Linked DNA regions of Homo sapiens. The protein of the gene in region 1 interacts with the protein of each later gene in a biochemical or structural test. Each region holds a gene or a part of one and is shown on either strand. Other genes may lie near its edges. The genes, in order: MARCHF5, FUNDC1, MAP1B and MFN2.

Region 1 (5,821 bases):
GGATAGGGTAAGGAAAAGATTGTATTAGCTTCATTACCCCCATAGATAGGGTACCCTAGAGTTCCTGAATTGGGAAAAATGCCTGGGATCTGTAACCAAAACTGGACCTCCTACTACAGTCCCTCAATTCTAGACCTTGGAAGTGCACTTAAGGAGGGTTAGGTCTGTAGGGTAGACACTTAGCCAGCCAGAGACATCACACCCTATCTTACACACCACTAAGTAAGGAGAAAGAGCCAAAGAGAAATGAGCTTTCAGGCCATCTCTTGAAGGCCGGTCCTACCTCTTGGCTGGCTATGCTTAATCTCCTAGAAGGAAGATCAGGAAAACAGTTGTTTTGCTGGAAGACAAATAGGACTTAGAATTATATCCCAGTTCCGTAGCCCAGTCTAACCAAATCAAATAAAGGAATAGAAGCAACAATCAGAGGTCCCCGCCCCTCTATTGTAATGTAATCAGTCTGGGTCAGCCATTTTAATTTTTATTCCTGTGTGGTATGAAATGGCTTGGGAACTTTGTTTTTCCCTTGAATGAGACATTTCTTATAAATAAATCAGGACTGATAGCTTTCCAGCTTATTTTTTAAACTTTTTATTTCTGTGTATTCTTTTGAAATTAAGCATTTTCTATTAAAAAAATAGAGCTTAACATGCAACACCTCATTTGAAAAAGAAGTAATTCTAATATATGCTATCTGTTTCACAGGTTGTAGGTCATAAAGAAGGTCTGGATGTTATGGAGAGAGCTGATCCTTTATTCCTTTTAATTGGACTTCCTACTATTCCTGTCATGCTGATATTAGGCAAGATGATTCGCTGGGAGGACTATGTGCTTAGACTGTGGCGCAAATACTCGAATAAACTACAAATTTTAAATAGTATATTTCCAGGTAAGGCACTGAACTGTGGTTGTAAAGTGCATACCAAATTGATCTTGAAGAACAATAACATGCTTTTTTAGCCATGTTTGAAGGTAGTCTAACTCTTCTGATTTATTAGCACTAACGCACTGCATTTTTTTCCTCTAGGGATAGGTTGTCCTGTTCCTCGAATTCCAGCTGAGGCCAATCCTTTAGCAGATCATGTCTCTGCTACTCGAATCTTGTGTGGAGCCCTTGTCTTTCCTACTATTGCTACAATAGTTGGTAAATTGATGTTCAGTAGTGTTAACTCTAATTTACAAAGGACAATCTTGGTAAGACGGCTTTAACATTACTTATATTACCTTGCAAAAGAGAATGAAGTGTATTTGTTTTTAAAAGGTGGGGAACTGTATAAATATTCGGTCTGTGGCTCCTATGCATTAAGCCTCTATTTGAGCCTCACTATCATTCAATAGCTTGAGTGGAAATAAAAAGAGGAGAAACCACTGCAGCAGTTCTGGCCTTTTGGAACTATGTTGTAGGTGCTTTCTCTCCTGGCATATGCATGAATCATCACACCTGTCCCTCTTGCCAGTGGGATTACAGTACTTTACGATCAGACCACCTGGTTCAAATCCCATCACAGAAATTGTCTTGCTGTGAAATCTAAATCAAATGTCTGGACTTTTTGTTCCTGTAGTATGGTGATGGTAATAATCAGGATTATTGTGAGGATTGTATAAGTACTAGCACATAGTAAGCACTCATGTTGTTTGCTATTATTGTTACTCCCACTTCTCCCCTCTGGTGGCATGTAACCTGCACGGACCTTGGAGGACTGAACAAAGGGGGCAAACGTGGGAATAAAAGACAAAGACAAGAGAGTATATTTGGAAGAAGGGGTCAGGGGGCACCTTGCCTCTAGTGGACAAGGGCCCTGAGCTTTACACAGCCCTCTGTATTTATTAGGCAAAAGAGATAGTGAGAAGCAGGGGTGATTGTCGGGTAATTGTCAGTCCATTTGGCAGTTTGGTTCACAGCAGGCTTGCGAGACTGCATCATTTGAACAGTAGGCGCTAGATTTCCCAGTAGATAAGTTCAAGGAGCCCTGCACCAGGGAGTGATGGCCCCCAGCAAACCCTTTGGTGGCAGGCTCAGTGTGAGTTTACTCACATCCTGCATTCATGATAAACAGTTTGCTGTTTGGTCATATAGCCTCCAGTGGAATGCTGAGTTGGTCACGATCCCTTTGGCCTTTCTTGCTCCCAACAGTGGCAGTCTGCACATAGTGCCCTAGCATTCTTCTTTGTATATCAGAGTATATGTAGAACTACATGGAAGAAAGACTAGTCAGAAAGGATAATGGAGAAGGCATCTGTGTCCCCTGTTACCTGTAGTAACAGCGTATAGTCTGTCTCTCTCCCTATCTCATCTCCTAGTAGAAAAAGAAAACTGTTTCATTTGCAGTCATCTGAATTAGTTTAGCATCAAAGCCTACGTCTTTTGTGATCTAAATAAAATTATTTTTATTACTCTGTTTCTCTAAATCTGCATTATAAAAAGCTAATTTTCCTTTTTATTTTAGGGTGGAATTGCGTTTGTTGCCATAAAAGGAGCATTTAAAGTTTACTTCAAACAGCAGCAATATTTACGACAGGCACACCGCAAAATTCTGAATTATCCAGAACAAGAAGAAGCATAAAACTGACTTCTGGTTGTTCTGCAGTTCTCTCATCCTTATGAATCTGTTGTGTTGTTTTGATTCCATCATTAATGCACTTGTGGAGACTTGTGATAAGCTGCTGCTCCTATATTTTTTAAGAAATATAATAAAGCACTTAGGGCAGGGGAAATCATCTCGGTAATCATGGAACCTAAGGATGTGATTTGTTTTCATTGTTTGTATGTACTACTTTTATGGCAGTCATATGAACCATTATCTTAGCATGGTAAACCTGGGTTTTGTTCATATTTTCTCCAGACAGAAATGCAAAGATCAAACTGTGCAAATATTAAAAAAATGCACATGCTGTTTTATTCAAATGCCTCTTTTGTACATGTTCATGTTTAGTGTTTTCTCAGAATCAGCAACTCAAGGTACTATGAGGATTTTTCTCACTGACATAATTTGATTACATACTAAATAAGAGGATATGTTAATATGAGGAAATGTAAATTAAATTAGTTATAAATAAATAACCAAAAATGTATGTAAACATTCAAATGATTATCTGAACAAATGAGATTTTGTGGTGTTTTCTTTAACCCATGTGATGTCCTCCAAAATGTGTAGGGTAAAAATTCACAGGGCTTCCAGATCACTTTTTCAATATTAAATTTTATTTACATAATGTTGACATCTCATACTTCATGAAGTAATTTTGACTCATGCAGTCGTGTGTGTGTGTGTGTGTGTGTGTGTGTGTGTGTGTGTATTTGTGTGTTTCAGTGTTTCATCAGGTCCTTCCATCTCTGGGAGTTTTTTCAACCCATATTTCTAGAAATTACAGCTGCCAGTTTATAGTAGTTTGAGCAGAGGATGATTTGCAAAAATAAAAATAAAGTTATTTTACTCTCCTCTTGCATTGATTCAGTTATTGAGATATTCGTTGATCACCTCCTATTTCCCAGGCACTGTGCAGAGTGCTGTAGGACATAGTGGTGAACAAGACAGACTTGGTCCAAGCTCTTACAGAGTTGACAGTCTAGTTTCAGCACATAGAAAACCAGCAGTGAATAAACCAAGGTGAGGCCTTGAGCTCTTTGTTTTTATATTAATGAGGAGAAAAGTATGAAAACAAGAAGTCTTAAGTAAATATTGAGGTCATTGTTTTTGGCTTAAGTTTATTATAGAAAATCAACACTAATGTTTTTAGATTTTAATTGTCCTATTGATGAGGCTAGCACCTTAATCACTGTTTAGTTTTGTATTCATTTTTAAAAGCAATTATTGAAGCCATTTTCAATAGATTGGCCATTTTAATGTTCAGCAACCTGAATGGTTATTTTTGTTAATTAAAATTAAATTTTTAAGAGATATTTTCAAAACCCTATTTATTTTCTTGTTCACAGTAATGCATGTCAATAATAAATGTTTCCCCTTACTGATAAGCGGCCACTTTAGGAGTGTAGCAAATATAGATTGAGCTATGTTAGTTTGCAATAATATATGTTAACTTTAGTAATTAAAGACTGGTTTCTATAGTATGAATGTCTTAATTTTGAGTTATATGATGTTTATTTGAATGACTGTTGAACATTCAAATTTGTATTATTTGGAGATGAAGATTTGACTAACAGTGAGCCTTATTAAGAACACTACTACAGTTCTGAAGGGGAAATATAACATCTATGGTTATATATTTTAAAAACTTAGATTATAGGCTGTAATTATAAAATATATTGGCTTTTGTTTTCAATGTGAAAGATACATTAAATGGACACATATCTTGCAAAATTTTGTTGTATAGAACAGTTTTTAGGCAGCCTTTACTAAAGTTATGCAAACACACAGTTCCCCATTTACTACATTAATGCCCTTGACAGGGAGTAGCTGCTTGGTTTTATAGGTATTAGGGCTCATGAAGGCCGGGGAACAACTCTAATCCTTTTGGGGCAGGAGGGAGGGTTTTTTTAGGGTTGCGGGGAGGGAACTGCAAGTGCCTGAGGACCAGAGTGGCCTCTAGCCCCGAATTGAACACTTTTAAACCTAAAGAGCCTTATTATTATTAGCTCGAGAAATACCACATGCCAGTCTTCCCAGGAAGGTGACCTGCCTGACCATGAAGCAACAAAAGAGCATAGGCAGACTTAAAGTTGGATAGACCTGGGTTCAAATCATAGTTCAGCTTTCAATAACTGTATGTATGATTTTGGCTAAAGGATTTGACTTTCTCTCAACTGCAGTTTTCTTAATCTTTGAAATGCAAATAATGTTTATCTCAGAAGACTATTTCTAGGATTAACTGAGAGATTAAAGGAACAGCAGCACTTAGGCTCAAAATCGCCCCTACAAAGCAGTAGTTGTTTCTTAATTGCTAAGTAATCTGTTTGCACTCTAGGAAAAGTAAATGGAGAGGTAAAAGAAAGGCATTGGGGACAAATGAAAGAGATGATGTAGATTTTTCGGATGGGTGGGTATATTTTATTTTCCAGTTTATTTTCATATTTCTTTACTGTGTTATTTCTGGAAACTTTAATGTTTTAAACCTCTTTTATAAAATTCAATGACGACTACTAGAATTCTTTTCAAAAGTTAACTTATCTCCAAAGTGGCTGAAAATATTGTTTACCATTACATGATTATGAAATGACTGTGAAGAATATAAAATTAAACTTAGTGACTTAATTAGTCACTGCCTTGCTAACTTTGCTGTAATTTTTTTAAACGTCTTGTTTTTAATATAGCAAACTATCTCAATACTGGCTGGATTAGGTTAAATAAAGAATTTTTATGTTCTCTAGGTGTACTTTGTTAAATCTCAAAACATTCTGTACATACATAATTTTTTTTAATCACAGTTATCGAGATACTAGTTTTTGTAAGTAAAAGTAATCTGAATTTAAAAAAAAAACTGTATGGAAGAATTTGTCCTAATTTTGTAAACAGGCTAGCCTATATTCTAAGTATGTTCTAATGACTAAACTACATCCCCACTCACCCACCCTCAAAGCCTCTTGCACTGAGTATAATTAAGCAACTAGACAAGATCTGTGGGTGGTCTCATGCCATGATGTCTTAAAGTGTATTCGAGTGAGTTGGGAACACAAACTGCTTCTGAGATATTAAGAACTTAAATTTCTGAAGTAGAAGATTAGAATCCTCTAGAATGAGTTAAAGGTCTTTTCCTTGCATCCATTTGGGGATTATATTGGTTTTAAGTCATTTCATTACCCCATCTGAGAGACAGATGCTAAGAGGAGAAAGGGCATAGAATTGAACAGTCCTGGATGCATATG
Region 2 (5,023 bases), on another chromosome or scaffold:
CCTCAGCCTCCCAAGTAGCTGAGACTATAGGTGCATGCCACCGTTCTAATTTTTGTATTTTCTGTAGAGACAAGGTCTCTCTCTCTTACCCAGGCTGATCTCAAACTCCTAGGCTCAAGAGATCCTCCTGCCTCAGCCTCCCAAAGTGCTGGGATTACAGGAGTGAACTACTGTACCTGGCATATAATTCTTAATTGGGAAAAAAAAAGCCACACAAGATATTTTGTAGAAAAATATTAATATGAACTGCATATTAGAAAATACTGGCTGGGTGTGGTGGCTCAAACCTGTAATGCCCAGCACATTGGGAGGCTGAGGCAGGCAGGCTGCTTGAGCCCAGGAGTTTGAGACCAGCCTGGCAACATGGCAAAACCTCATCTCTACAAAAATATAAAAATTAGCTGGGCATGCACCTGTAGTCCCAGCTACTTGAGAGGCTGAGGTGGGAGGATCACTTGAGCCCAGGTGCTCGAGGCTGCAGTGAGCTGTGATCACACCATTGCACTCCAGCCTGGGTGACAGAGCAAGACCCTGTCTAAAAAAAATTAACAAAGAAAGGAAATACTATTATCTCATGTTACATTTTTTTTTTATTAATAATGGCATTTGGCCAGGCATGGGGGCTCACGCCTGTGATCCTGGCACTTTGGGAGGCCGAGGCATCATGCACACCTGTAGTCCCAGCTACTTGGGAGGCTGAGGTGGGAGGACCATTTGAGCCAGGGGAGTCAAGGCTGTAGTGAGCCATGATGATGCCACTGCATTCCAGCCTAAGCAACACAGCGAGACAGAATGAGACCTGTCTCAAAAAAAACAAAAAAAAAAAACAAAAAAAAACAGTTGGCCGGGCCTGGTGGCTCACGCCCCTAATCCCAGCACTTCGGGAGACTGAGGCGGGTGGATCATGAGGTCAGGAGTTCGAGACCAGCCTGGCCAACATGGTGAAACCCTGTCTCTACTAAAGATACAAAAAATTAGCTGGGAGAGGTGGCGCGTGCCTGTAATTCCAGCTACTCAGGAGGCTGGGGCAGGAGAATCGCTTGAACCCGAGAGGCGAAGGTTGCAGTGAGCCAAGATTACGCCACTGCACTCCAGCCTGGGCTACAGGGCGAGAACCCGTCTCAAAAAAGAAAAAAAAAGTTTCTGAAGTGGCAGTTCCCACACAGTAAAAAAATAAAAAAGGGGGGGGGGCGTATTCATAGTTGTATAAGAGAATATCTGTACTCTTAGAAGATACATACTGAAGTATTTAGGGATGAAAAGTTATGACATCTTAAATACTTTGGAAAAAAAATTATCTGTGTGTGTCACCCACACACAGATAAAGTAAACACGGCAAATCATGAACAATTTGGTGAATAGATGAAGGGTATTGAGATATTCACTATATTTGTCTTTCAACTTTTTAACTGGTTTGAATTTTTTCAAACTAAAAAGTTGAGGGAGGTAAAAGGATAAAACAAAAACAAAGGCAAGGAAGTATTCAATTCCATTTTAAACAGTACAAAAGTAAAGGGTCAAATTACACCTGAAAACATTAATAAAATATATTAATCATATTAAAAAAACATATTTTCAAACTATCCTCAAGAAAAAAAATGTGTACTTTTAAGTTTTACTACACCTGTACATGTTCATTTATAAAGGCAGAGGAAATATGTTGAAAAGAATGTTCTTAGTTTTTACAACAAGATCAAAGTGAGCTAGAGATATGCAGGGGAATCTATGATAACCACCAAAAAAAAAAAAATAATGACTGATTTAAGTAGTGGTGTGATCTCAAATTTTACTTAACACTCTAGATATATAACCAAAAACACCATTTTTAAAAAAGACAGTAATCCCCCCCGGTCACATTTTCTGCTAAGGGATACCCATTAACCAAAAAAAGGAAAAAAAAAAAAAAAGTCAAAATTATATATCATCTTACTTCTTCAATTAAATTGTTGATTTCAGGTGCTGCTTTGTTCGCTCGTTTCTTAATCTGTCTTTTTGCTTTATTTACATCTTTTTCAACTCTCTTCCAGTCAATCTGCACATAGCCACTATGACTAGCAATCTGCAAAAAATATAATAAAAATTATCAATACTATACCAACTAGGTTGCTGACTATAATAGCCAAGAATATATAAACACTTAAGAGTTCTAGTAACCTATAAAACTTATAGCTAAGAAATTGCTTTTTCTCCACTAGTTTATTCATTTAACAGACACTAGTGCCTACCCTATGCTAAGTACTGAATAAGGGAGACATAAGCCCCTATCCTCAGAGAGCTTCAGGTCTGTTAGGGAAAACAGATATTAAGCATAAGTAAGTAACTAATTATTTAGATGTGATGAACAGTGTTTAGTACATGATGGGAAAATGATTCCAAAAACTGTCTTTTAACTATACTATCATTCTGTCACACCTTTTGGAATAGGGAATTAGTTAAAAAGATACAGAGATTATCTAGATTATATAGCTAATTTAAAAATACTTTTTAATTAAATAGATCTTTAATTATAAGGGATCATAAGCCAATCAGTTATTAGATCACTAAAGAAATTTAAGTAGCCTGGTAAGTATTTAAATAGCTCTCTTTACTTAAATTAAGAATACTTTCTGGTAATTGCTTTTGAAAGTAGAATATAAAACAAACTGCACTCTACACAAGTTTCATGCCATAAATCCTTTTAATAAAACTATAGCTAAATGCCTATCATAAGAAAAATTATCATATGGTACTACTGAGAGACTGCAATATCTGAACAGGAACAACAGTGTGTGTGCAAGCCAGTCCAGTAACTCAGTGCCTCCAAATAATAAAATAGCCATATATACCATTATAAATCACTTCTGTCAAGCTTATGCTTTCTTTGTAATTTTTTAGTGCATCACTTTTCTTTTGCCATTTGCACCCTGAATGAACACACTGACTTTTAGCCACACAGAAAATACTTTAAATAATAAAAATATCTGATTTTGCATAAACAGGCTGACTAGAAATCTTAGGTTCTATTTTGTCTGTGAATGACTCCATAGAAGAATTTGTTTATCTGCATTTCTTCTTGTATTTATTCATCTACTATCACTTCAAACTCCAGCCTCAGCAAAACAGTGGTGATCAAATCAAATGGCAAGTGAAGGCTTTTTCTGTTAGTACTTGATACAGCAATTTGAGTCACAGGCATGGAGGTGATGATGAACCTTAGGAAAATTCTACATATAAATTGAAAAGACTTCTTATTGGCTTGCACTAAGTAATCAAAATAGTTGATTACTTTGAAGCTTTTGCAGAATTTTACTTTTTGCTGAATCTTAACATTTCTTCTTAATCCAAAGCTTGTGAGAAGTACAAATATTTTATGTATGTATATGGCTTTATTTTTTGGTTAGAACAAAATTTTTTTTATTTTTGTTTTTTGAGACGGAGTCTCGCTCTGTCGCCCAGGCTGGAGTGCAGTGGCGTGATCTCTGCTCACCGCAAGCTCCGCCTCCCGGGTTTATGCCATTCTCCTGTCTCAGCCTCCCGAGTAGCTGGGACTACAGGCACTTGCCACCACGCCCGGCTGATTTTTTGTTTTTTAGTAGAGAAGGGGTTTCACCGTGTTAGCCAGGATAGTCTCGATCTCCTGACCTCGTGATCCACCCGCCTCGGCCTCCCAAAGTGCTGGGATTACAGGCATGAGCCACCGCGCCCGGCAGAACAAAAATATTATCTATACCACCACTCATCAGCAACTCCCAATTCAACTGTCATTTTCAAGACTTAACATTTTAAGTTACAAAGTTTTTTTTAAAAAGCTAATCTTCATGCCATGAGTTAAATTGGAAGTGAAATTAAAAAAACAAAAAACAAACCTTAACTATATTCCCTGGGTGAGACCCCTTATCCACCCCCCAATCCCCAGCAAATGAATAAAGGAAACCATTTTAATGAGACAGATTAAACAAATTCTCACAAACAGCATTCTATACACAAAATATTTTTACATAGCCATTTGTCACTGATAATTAGTAAACCCAGTGTTATCTGAGATAAAGATTTTGTATAATTTAAAGAATTCTCTACGTTTTGGGGGAAAATGTCAAACAGTTGCAAGGAAAATGAAAAACCTTGAGATGCTAAAGATACTAACGCCTCTTTGGAAGAAGACTTCCCTAACACCTCCAAGCAGACAGAGCGTCTTCCCTCTGCTCTCTCAGCACTAAACACACCCTTCTAGCTCAGCACTGACCATATGGGCTGTGAATCTCTATATCCCTAGAGTCCCAACTAATGCCAGATGAATGAGACATAGTAAATAAATGATAACAAAGACAATGAATAAAGACTAAATCTCAAAAGCTGTATTAACCAACCTGGCTCAAATAATGACTCTCAGCAACAAAATGGATGAGCTAGATTATCCCAAAGGACCCAACCTAGCATGTCTACTAACAAGAGAATGATCTTTGATGCTGGAGTGATCTACCATCACTGAACAAATTCCCTTGAGAATCTGTTCCCTTGCAGGAAAAATGAAAAACCTTGAGATGCTAAAGATATTAATGCCTTAAAAAAGAGAGAGAGAGATGAAGTCTCACTATGTTGCCCAGGCTGGTCTTGGACTCTTGGCCTCAAGCCATCCTCCTGCCTTGGTCTCCCAAAGTGCTGGGATTACAGTGAGCCACGGCACCCAGCTGAGAAGTACACTTCTGATCAAACCGAAGAATACCAGTCTAAATTGAGCACCCTGCTCCAGTACAGAGATGACCAAGGACAAGCAATCTGCCCCAAGTGGGGTTCAGGTACAACCAACTTAACCAACCAATACATACAGGACCCAATTCAGTCTTGTCCACACAAAATTCATCTGCAACTACAAGGAAATGCAAGCCAACAGACTGGGGAGGGAATGGGGCAGTGATGACTGCTTTTTGAACATTTGACTTCCTATAACACTAAAATATTTAATGGGATTACATAAGGTACTTTTATTAGAATAAAAGCTTCCAAGTTAAAAATAAATAAATAAAATAAAATAATTCCAGGCCGG
Region 3 (5,023 bases), on another chromosome or scaffold:
TTTTCTCTTTGACTGCAGAGGTAGAATCTGAAAAAGTAGGTGAATATAAAGGAGAGGACTCTCGTGGGGTGAGTGGAGAGATATCAGATTTTGGAGAGAGCTTCTCTCCTTCCAGACTTTGCACTTTTTCAGAGGTGAGTGAGGCATATAAGGACATATCTCTGGGAGGAGCAACATCGGATAGAGTATCTTCTTGGAGAGGAGAAGCGATCTGAGAAGGGGTATGAGCAGAAGAGGTGGACGGGGAGGCCTCTACCTGAGATACTGAGATGAGCTCAGAAAGATCATTATCTTGGGTGTAGGACGGCTCCTCCATAGGTGGTATCTTATGTGATAAACTGGAGTCCTGCATGTCAGAAGGACTGTAGTCCACTTCAGTTGGCCCATTTTCAGTGATGTGAAGCACGCCTGCACCCACTGTAGGGTGATCTGGAGACTGTCGACTGAAGTCCATAGCAAGGGATTGCTCAGGAGATTCTTGGCCAAATTCAATAGACATTGAGGACTGTTCAGATCTGTGATCTTGAACGGGTGTCCTGGACTTTGCAGTTTTAGGGGAGAAATCTGGTGGAGAAATTGACATCGGTCTTGGGCATTCTTCTTTAGATGGAGACATTTCTGTTTCCTGGAATGTGGTAGGTGTTTGCACAACAGACACTGAAAGGGAGTCATCTACTTCTGTGGAATGTGGGGAGCCAACCTCAGCATGCAGAGATGGAGACACATCATCTGTTGTTGGCTCTGGAAATGAGCTCGTAGCCACTGAGGCTGTGGACACTGAGGCCACACCCTCCATATGAGAGTACGTGTCTTCTGCTACGCCCTCATCAACAGGAGTAGCTGACTTGTCTGAGACAGTACCTTCAGAAATGGACATCTTAGTGTCTTCTTTAAAAGATCCAAACTGACTGACATCTATTTGTGTGGGAGAAACATCTCCTAATTTCCTTTCATCCAGAGCCAGTGCTGGTTGAGAACTCATGGCTTCAACATCATCAGTTTTCTTTTCTTGGCCAAAGTCTTCTTTTATTGGTGCAAAGTCTGTGCTTTTCCCTTCCTGTTTGTCTTGGTAAAGACTAGTAGAAGTCATTTCAGAAACTGGACTTACTTGGTCTGGAGAGCCTTGTTTTCCACTCTTTTCTTCAAAAGGACTTTCGGCACCTCTGCCAGAAGCCTTGTCATCAGCACTTAGAAAACTTTCATAAGCAGACTCGGATCCAATGAGGGGCGGGCTGCGTAAAGGAGACAAAACTTTTTCAATAGGAGACTCTGAGTCAGGCACGGGCTCATCCATGGGGCTTACTGAAGCCCTTTCATTCTCATCTTTGGCATCACTGAATTCAAAACTCACTGGAACTGCTGGTGGTTTTTCAATGACTTCTGTAGGGAGATGACTGGATTTCTCGTCAGTAGGAGATTGATAGTAAGGTGTGTGACCAGCACTGCCAGTCACGGACTGAGATGGTGACACCACTTCCAGAGTCTTGTCCTCAGGACTAGCACAATGTTCTTCAACTACTTCTTGGGTCACCTCAGGAGACACCGGGGCTACTTCTGCCTCTGCAGAGACTTTAATCTCATTGGGCGTCAGAGAGAAGTTCACACTACGTTCACCCAGGGGGGTCTTTTCTAAGGGTGATGGTGGAGATGGACTCAGGGACGGGCTCTTCGATGGGCTGACCTTTTCACTTGAAACAGCTGAGATGCTATCTTTGATGTCCAAAGTGGTGCTGGCTTTCACTTCAGAGCAGTAAGCATCACGTAAAGCAGATCTGCTGAATTTGTCTTCCTCCATGGAAGAGGGTGGTGATATGGTAGAGGCTGAAGCATTGTAATCCTTGCCATCAGTGGCATCTGTTTTTGATCCTTCAGAAAATCCGTTGAGCGGTGTAACATCAGCAGGTTTAGAGTATTCCTGAGAATACAATGAAGATTCATATTTGGTGATATTTACGAATTCCTGAGAAGGGGACTCCGTCTCTTCATTGTTGGTCTCATCACTCATCACGTCTCGAGGGGTAGACATCTCATCCATGGGGGTGGGCTCACTGGATATCTCAATAGTAGACTGAGTGTAGCCAGAGGTGGCAGTGAATTCCTCAGGCTGGTCTTCTCGATTCTCCTCATCAGAAGCGGTGGCCTCGCTCTCTGAGCCTCCAGGTAAAGTCTCATCATGAATTGAAGATGCAGGTTCTCGGCCAGGAGACTGGGCTCCTAGTTGCTTGGTTGGTGTGGTGAGGAATCCATACTGCTCCTCGGCACCACCAGCCTCTGCAGCCTTGTCGACCACAGCCATCACATAGTCTTCAGCTTCCATTTTTTCCGGCTCATATTCCTCCTCTCTGGCATCTTCAGCTTTGTCCTCCTCATCAGCCTCCTCTTCAGATTGTTCAGCCTCTCCTTTCTCAATGGCCTCATCCATGTCTTCTTCGGCTCGGTCATCCCCACTGGCCACAGACTCCCTCTTCTCCCTGATGTATGCATCAGCCTCCGCCTTGGCACTTTCCTCATCCTCAGTGGGGCTGTGCTTGGAGGCGCTCACACATACGTGTTCCTCCCCATCCTCTTCTGGCTCCTCAGCCTCCTCAGTTTCTGCCTTCTCTTCATAGTCTCCAGTCTCTGAAGATTCTTCAAAACCGGCTCCTTCATCTTCAAATTTTTCAATGTCGTCTACTCCCTGCTTCTCGACGGGCTCCAGCTCCTCAGGTGTCTGTTCACATTCGCCCTCCCCTTCAGTGGTAGTGATTCCCTCATCAGGGGACTCGGCAGGACCTTTGGTGACTTCTCTCTCCTTCTGGATGACGTAGGCTTCGACTGGCTCAGTTTCCTTCAGTTTCTCTTCGTCTTCGATTAGCTCCAGCTGAGGCTTGATGTCCTTTGTTACATCGACCTCTTCAGCCTTTAACTCTTCAAAGTCCTTGGTTAGATCCTCAGGAGATGACATAAGGGACCTCTCAGCTTCGAGTTCTTTGGCAGGGCCAATGGCTGCTATTCCAGCTGCCGCCATGACAGCTGCTGTGGTGGCTCCAGTGCCGACAGCTGCAGCGACAGCCTCTGCGGCCTTGCCTTCCTTCTTAATGACTTTTATTTTCCCCTTCTCCTTTGGCTTTCCGGCAGCAACAGAATCTTTCTTGACAGACTCTTCCTTCTTGGGTACTTTTGGTTTTAAAGCAGCTGGTTTTTTTGCTTCAGACAGAGGAGTAGATGATTTCTTTGCGTCTTTAGGGAGCTTCTTAATTTCTTTTTTGGGTTCCTTTTCTTCCTTTTTCACTTCCTTCTTCTCTTCCTTCTTAACTTCCTTCTTGACTTCCTTTGGCGGTGTTTCTTTCTTAACCTCTTTCTTGGGTTCTTTTTTCTCTTCTTTCTTGATCTCTTTTTTGACTTCTTTTTTCACCTCTTCCTTTTTTGGTTTTTCCTCCTTCTTGATAGGTGTTTTGTCCTCCTTTTTAGCCACTTCTTTCTTTGGCTTTTCTTTCTCCTCTTTCTTGTCTTCAGGCTTTACCTTTGTTTCCTTTTTCACCGTCTTCTCCTTGGCAGCTTTGGGTTTGACATCTGTGGCTTGCTTCTCAGCCACCTCGGCTTTCACTGGAGATGGCTCTTCTTTGCTGGGAACCTCCTTTTCAGTCACTGAAGGTTTGGTCTCTGTTTTTATTGGCTTGTCTTTTTTCACCATTACCTTTTCTTTGCTTTCAACTTTGGGTGGCTTTTCCACGTGATTCACTTTTGTGACCTCAGGGGTTTCTTCTTTTGACTCCTTGCGCACGGATTTGCTAGGAAGTGGTTTTGCGGCTGGCTTCAGACTTTCTCGGCTATCAGCCCTCTGTTTCAGTTTTGTTTGTTTCACCACAGGAGTGGGCACCTGGCCAGTGAGATCCTTTTGGGTGGCCAGTGGCTGCTTCAGAAAGTCTAGATGTTTGAGCTTTTCCAACCCTTCCAGGATGTTGTACTGGGTGCTGTTCCCAGGAAACAGGACTCGGATGATTTTCTCCGCAGGGTTTGCTGGATGCCACACAATCAAAGATGAGACTGAAGTTAAGTAGGAAATCGGGAGATCTACTTCTTGACCATTAGGCAGAATGAATTCAGCCTTGTCTTTGTTGGTACCAGTCCACTGCTGCATAAAATACTGCATTTCCTTGCTGCTCTTGACTGGATTAAGCACATACATCTCAAGTTTACCTACTCCCATTTTTTGGAAAAGAATGACAGGATCAATAGTATTGCCTACACTTCTAAACAGAGGTTCTGGTTTCATGGACAATTTGTTTAGGTACTGGAGAGTGAAGCAGGCTTCTTCTATGCTTCTCTTCATCTTGATGTTTGGCTCTGGATTTTTGAGATTTTCAGGTACATTGAGAAATACAACTCCTAAGTCAGGGGAGATGAGGTTTTTCATCCAGTCACTATTTGTGGTGGAGCCCTGGGACTGTTCTTCCTCGAGCTCTGCAATTTTCCGCTGTAACATGCTGTTTATTCCAGGCAAATTGTCATCCCCAATGTGGGTGAGCAGGATGGAGTCCACTCGGTCTAAGTGTCGGATGAGCTTCCAGAAGCAGGATTTTCTCTCTGATCCGCCATTGATGAGCATATTGAAACCATTCACTGCAAACAAGGCAGAATCGCCCCTCCCTCCTGGAAAAATATAACAGCAGGGCTTGGAGAGCTTCAGAAATCCACCCGATGTGGGAGGTTCCAAGATGTCAAAGGGAGATGGGACTTCCACTGATTCTGAGAGATACTCGGTAAACTCAGAAAGTCCTTCCATTTCTGGCAAGATAGAAGCTGAATTGAGTTTAATATTGATGAAGTCTTGGAGATTGTGTCTGTCAAGATTGGAGTTCTTCCAGTCCCCTTCTTCAGGACAGAACAGGGTTAAGCTGGCTTTGTTGGCAGGATGGGTGGTGCTTAGTAACTCCCCGATCTGGGTTTTAAAGAAAGAAAGAAAGAAAGAAAAGGTGTAAGTGATTATCATCACTGATCCATCATCTCCAGCTATAACTATGTGTTACAGGATCACAGGATG
Region 4 (5,023 bases), on another chromosome or scaffold:
ACTGCCTTGGGGCAGCGTGGCTCATTCTCACTTGGCCTCCGGTCTAGCTTAGACAGCACTGCCCCCAGGAAGCCTTCTCTGACCACCCCTCTAACCTGAGTCAGGACCCCGGACCCCTTCTCTGTGTGCCCCAGCACCCTGCACTTCTCCCATCTCAGCTCTCACCTCACCATAAGGTAACTGTACAGCTCACCTGTCTGTGTCATCTGCCTCATGAGGGCCACACTATCTGACCCCAGCACCCAGCAGGTGCACAAATGTTTGCTACGTGAGCAGACCTTTGGATCACTGCACTGCTTTTTCCCAGTGCCCTTAACAGGCAGATGGCCAACAAATTACTCCATACAGGAGCAACTGAGTGAGATCCCACCACTGTCCTGTCTAGAACTCGCACCAGACAGGTGCTTCAGCTGGCTGGAACACAGACGGGTGTTTAGCCCCTCTGCACACTCCTGGGAACTATGAGGCTGACAGGCCCCAGCCCTGAGAACACTCCGAAAGCATCTGAAGCATGACAAGGGCCTGCCCAGTGAATTTCCCCCACAGCCAGCGCCATGAAAGGAAATGACCAAGTCAACAACACCCCCATCTCCCCTCCCGCTATGTCCACCGGTCACCTCTGCCCCAGATGCATCAATATTCCTCCCTTATATGGGCACCTGGGCATGGCCTTTGGAATGTCCCTCGGAGGAAGCTGGCTCTCAAGCATGTGACTACACTTAAAAGCGAGAGCCAGCAGGCCAACAAGCTCTTGTTACCTGCCCGTTAGAAACAGTGCCCAGGCAGGAACCATTCTTTCCCTGACCCAGCACAGCTCAGGATCACTCCAGCTCTTTCCCTTCCATTTAAACAACAGGGGAGGCCTCATATTTTCACACACAGAGAAATCAAAGCATGCATCACATAAACACCTGCATTACGCATGTGTTTGTCCACCACATCATCTGAGTAGGTGACTCAGAGCTTCCAAGAGGGTTAGTCTGGGCTCCCAGAGGGGAGCGGCCTGATCTACCCCATCTCTGCATGCCCAGCACCTGGCACACGGCTGGCACACCATAGCCACTGATAAACAGGCAATGAGTTGGGATTATTTCAACTACCAATCATACTACTTTAAAATTCAGATTTGTTTTAGTTCAACAAGTATTTAGGAAACACCTTCTGTGGCATCAAGCGCCACGCAAAGGGCAGGGCACAGATGAGGGCATGAAGTTGGACAGTCTCTTTCTTCAAAGGGAGCCTCGTGTAGCAGCCTGGCATGTAAAACAACGAGAAGCCAAGCTGCTCTATTTGAAAGCAGAATGGAAAGAAGGTGGCCCCCCTGAGCCAGGGGCCAACCCCCGAAGCACCACCACTGAACTTCTAGGGTTCTGCAGACTAGAATCTGAAACCACTGTTCACACCTGAGCCCCACTTTCACAAGTGAGGAAACCAAGGGCAGATAAGACTCAGTTACTGGGTCTCCACAGACAATCTCAGGACCTGGCGCCAAAGTGTCCTTCTAAAGAGGGAGCCTGAGGAAGCCAGTGCTGGAGTTGACACTCAGACGAGCGGGGCCCTGGGAACCAGTCCTTCTCTGCTGATAGACAAGGAACTAGAGGTTGGGCTCAAATTAGTAACTAGTAGAAAAGGCATAGGTGACGTGAGTTTCCTATAGTTCTGTCACCAATCTAAAAATATCAAAGAAAGGGCGCCCTGGTCAGGGATCACTGACACCCAAACAGTGCCTGGTATTAATGGCAGCCAGAACTAGGCAAAGGAAAACACGTGGGCTCCGGAGTTGGAGACACCTGGGTAAAACCCTGATCTATTACTTACAAGGTATCGGACAACTCTCAAACCTCAATTTGCTTGCCTTGTAGATGGGGATAAGATTCACCTATCTTTCATGATTAAATGAAACAAAACATGTGGACTTCTTAAAGTAATTACTAAATGGCAGTTCCCTTGTCTTCCTGGCCTCATCTCCCCAGACTCCAATTCCACATGATTTCAAGAGCAGAGCATTTCTAAGGCTATCTGGTTATGACTTCCCTGGGAGCAGAGATATACCTCCCCACCCGCAAATCCCACTAGCTAAATATCTAAACAGGTAAGAGCGGGCCTGGCTGAGCCGGTGCCCCCTTACCTTCAAGGAAGGTGGCGCTCTCCTGGATGTAGGCCCCCAGCTGCTCAAAAATGCCATTGATCTTCTTCTTGGCAGTGACAAAGTGCTTAAGTGGGGATGCATTCACCTCAGCCATGTGTCTCTTATTTTTCTTGACTGTGACGATAGAGTTGCATCGAGAGAAGAGCAGGGACATTGCGCTGCAAGAGAAGCTAACGTGAGCGAACCCAGCAACACCTACCTCGGGACATCCTGCTAGGGAGATGGCGGAATGCTTTGGGGAGAATCAAGAATATGGGGATCTCAGGTCACTGCAACCTCCAGGACTAGAACAAAGGACGGTGAGATAAGAACAGTGTCTCAGGCTGGGCGCGGTGGCTCACCCCTGTAATCTCAGAACTTTGGGAGGTTGAGGCAGGTGGATCACCTGAGGTCAGGAGTTCAAGACCAGCCTGGCCAACATGGTGAAACCCCCGTCTCTACTAAAAATACAGTAATTAGCCAGACCCAATGGCACACACCTGTAATCCCAGCTACTTGGGAGGCTGAGACAGGAGAATCACTTGAACCTGGGAGATGGAGGCTGCAATGAACCAAGATCATGCCATTGTACTCCAGCCTGGGTGACAGGGCGAGATTTTGTCTCAAAAAATAAAACAAAATTAGCATGACACAGTGGCATGCATCTGCAGTCCTAGCTACTTGGGAGTCTGAGGTGGGAGGGTCACTTGAGCCCAGGAGTTTCGGCTGCAGTGACCTATGATCAGTCCACTGCACTCTAGCCTGGGAGACAGAGCAAGACCACATAAAAACACTATTGGTTAGGGGCCAGGTTCAGTGGCTCATACCTATAATCCCAGCACTTTGAGAGGCCAAGGCAGGCAGATCACTTGAACTTTGGAGTTCGAGACAAGCCTAGGCAATGTAGGACCCCGTCTCTATTTAAAAAAAAAAAAAAAAACAGCCAGGCATGGTGGGTTATGCCTGTAATCCCAGCACTCTGGGAGGCTGAGGCAAGTGGATCACAAGGTCAGGAGTTCAAGACCAGCCTGGCCAACATGATGAAACCCCGTCTCTACTAAAAATACAAAAAAATATAGCCGGGTGTGGTGGTGGCCGCCTATAATCCCAGCTACTTGGGAGGCTGAGGCAGAGAATTGCTTGAACCTGGGAGGCGGAGGTTGCAGTGAGCCGAGATCGCACCACTGTACTCCAGCCTGGGTGACAGAGCCAGACCAAGTCTCAACAAAGAAAAACACACACACACACACACACACACAAAAACTATTGGTCTATTTTAGTATAGCACAGGTGTGCTACAGAAAATTTGGAAACTGAAGGGGAAAAAAACCCATAACCCCATCATTTTGTGATAAGCAATGTTAACATTTTATTTACTTATTTATTTTTTATTTTGAGACAAGATCTCGCTGTTACCTGGGCTGGAGTGCAGTGGCGCAATCACAGCTCACTGCAGCCTCAACCTCTTGGGTCCAAGCAATCCTCCCACCTCAGCCTCCTGAGTACATGAGACCACAGGCATGCACCACCACGCCCCACTAATTTTTTTAAAATTTTTTGTAGAGACAGGGTCTTCTTATGTTGCCCAGGCTGCTCCCAAACTCTTGGGCTCCAATGATCCTCTCACTTTGGATTCCCAAAGTGTTGGGATTAAAGTGCTGGGATTAAAGGCGTGAGCCACCATGCCCAGCCAACATTTTTTTTTTTTTTTTCTGAGACAGAGTCTTGCTCTATCGCTCAGGCTGGAGTGCTGTGGCATGATCTCGGCTCACTGCAACCACCACCTCCCGAGTTCAAGCTATTCTCCTGCCTCAGCCTCCCAAGCAACTGGGACTACAGGCACTCGCCACCATGCCCGGCTAATTTTTGTATTTTCAGTAGAGGTGGGGTTTCACCATGTTGGCCAGGTAGGTCTTGAACTCCTGACCTCAAATGATCCACCCACCTTGTCCTCCGAAAGTGCTGGGATTACAGGCATGAGCCACCACGCCCGGCCCAACATTTTGTTTATTATAATTTTTTTTTTTTTTTTGAGACAGAGTCTCACTTTTGTCACCCAGGCTGGGTGCAGTGGTGCAATCTCAGCTCACTACAACCTCCACCTCCCAGGTTCAAGCGATCCTCCTGCCTCACTCAGCCTCCTGAGTAGCTTGGAGTACGGGCATGTACCACCACACCCAGCTAATTTTTTTATTTTTCGTAGACAGGGCTTCACCATGTTGGCCAGGCTGGTCTCAAACTCCTGACCTCAAGTGATCCATCTGCTTCGGCCTCCCGAAGTGCTGGGAATACAGGCGTGAGCCACCGTACCCAGCCATATTATCACAGTCTATTTTTGTGTGACTGTCTCTCTTGCTCTCACTCAATCCTACATATCTTTGTAGCTTATCTTTTCATATAACAACATTTTAGAGGTCATGAGACTTGACTCCAAAGTCCTAGAGGTCTTTGGTCAAAGGTCAAAAGAGGCTGGGCATGGTGGCTCACACCTATAATCCCTGCACTTTGGGAGGCCCAGGCGGGTGGATCACTTGAGACCAGCCTGGCCAACATGGTGAAACCCCTTCTCTGCTAAAAATACAAAAATTAGCCAGGCATGGTGGCAGGCACCTGTAATCCCAGCTACTCGGGAGGCTGAGGCACGAGAATTGCTTGAACCTGGGAGCTGGAAGTTGCAGTGAGCTAAGATCGCGCCATTGCACTCCAGCCTGAGCAATAGAGCAAGACTCCATCTCAAAAAAAAAAAAAAAAAGATCAAAAAGAGGCGTACACACCAGAAGGAGTGCCCAGGGTAAGACTGGGAATTCCGACCCCAAAAGTGGACCCCTGCCAGGTCCCTCAGAGTTCCCACCACGGCGAAAGCTACTTCTTGAGCAGAGCCCACCAATCCCAGGA

Evidence for each region.
Region 2: the proteins of MARCHF5 (region 1) and FUNDC1 form a complex in vitro, tested with the Homo sapiens proteins (one study listed by BioGRID).
Region 3: of the proteins of MARCHF5 (region 1) and MAP1B, one has a biochemical effect on the other in vitro, tested with the Homo sapiens proteins (one study listed by BioGRID).
Region 4: of the proteins of MARCHF5 (region 1) and MFN2, one has a biochemical effect on the other in vitro, tested with the Homo sapiens proteins (one study listed by BioGRID).

The regions. Positions count from the first base shown.
Region 1 is NC_000010.11:92,348,644-92,354,464, forward strand, and holds the end of MARCHF5 (E3 ubiquitin-protein ligase MARCHF5), read left to right. Parts: intron 1-705; coding exon 706-889; intron 890-1,027; coding exon 1,028-1,194; intron 1,195-2,447; coding exon 2,448-2,564; 3' UTR 2,565-5,321; downstream 5,322-5,821. UniProt on the Homo sapiens protein: Mitochondrial E3 ubiquitin-protein ligase that plays a crucial role in the control of mitochondrial morphology by acting as a positive regulator of mitochondrial fission and as an important regulator of immune response.
Region 2 is NC_000023.11:44,525,307-44,530,329, forward strand, and holds part of FUNDC1 (FUN14 domain-containing protein 1), read right to left. Parts: intron 2,060-5,023; coding exon 1,931-2,059; intron 1-1,930. UniProt on the Homo sapiens protein: Integral mitochondrial outer-membrane protein that mediates the formation of mitochondria-associated endoplasmic reticulum membranes (MAMs).
Region 3 is NC_000005.10:72,193,764-72,198,786, reverse strand, and holds part of MAP1B (microtubule-associated protein 1B), read right to left. Parts: intron 4,922-5,023; coding exon 1-4,921. UniProt on the Homo sapiens protein: Facilitates tyrosination of alpha-tubulin in neuronal microtubules. Phosphorylated MAP1B is required for proper microtubule dynamics and plays a role in the cytoskeletal changes that accompany neuronal differentiation and neurite extension.
Region 4 is NC_000001.11:11,986,449-11,991,471, reverse strand, and holds part of MFN2 (mitofusin-2), read right to left. Parts: intron 2,308-5,023; 5' UTR 2,304-2,307; coding exon 2,129-2,303; intron 1-2,128. UniProt on the Homo sapiens protein: Mitochondrial outer membrane GTPase that mediates mitochondrial clustering and fusion. Mitochondria are highly dynamic organelles, and their morphology is determined by the equilibrium between mitochondrial fusion and fission events.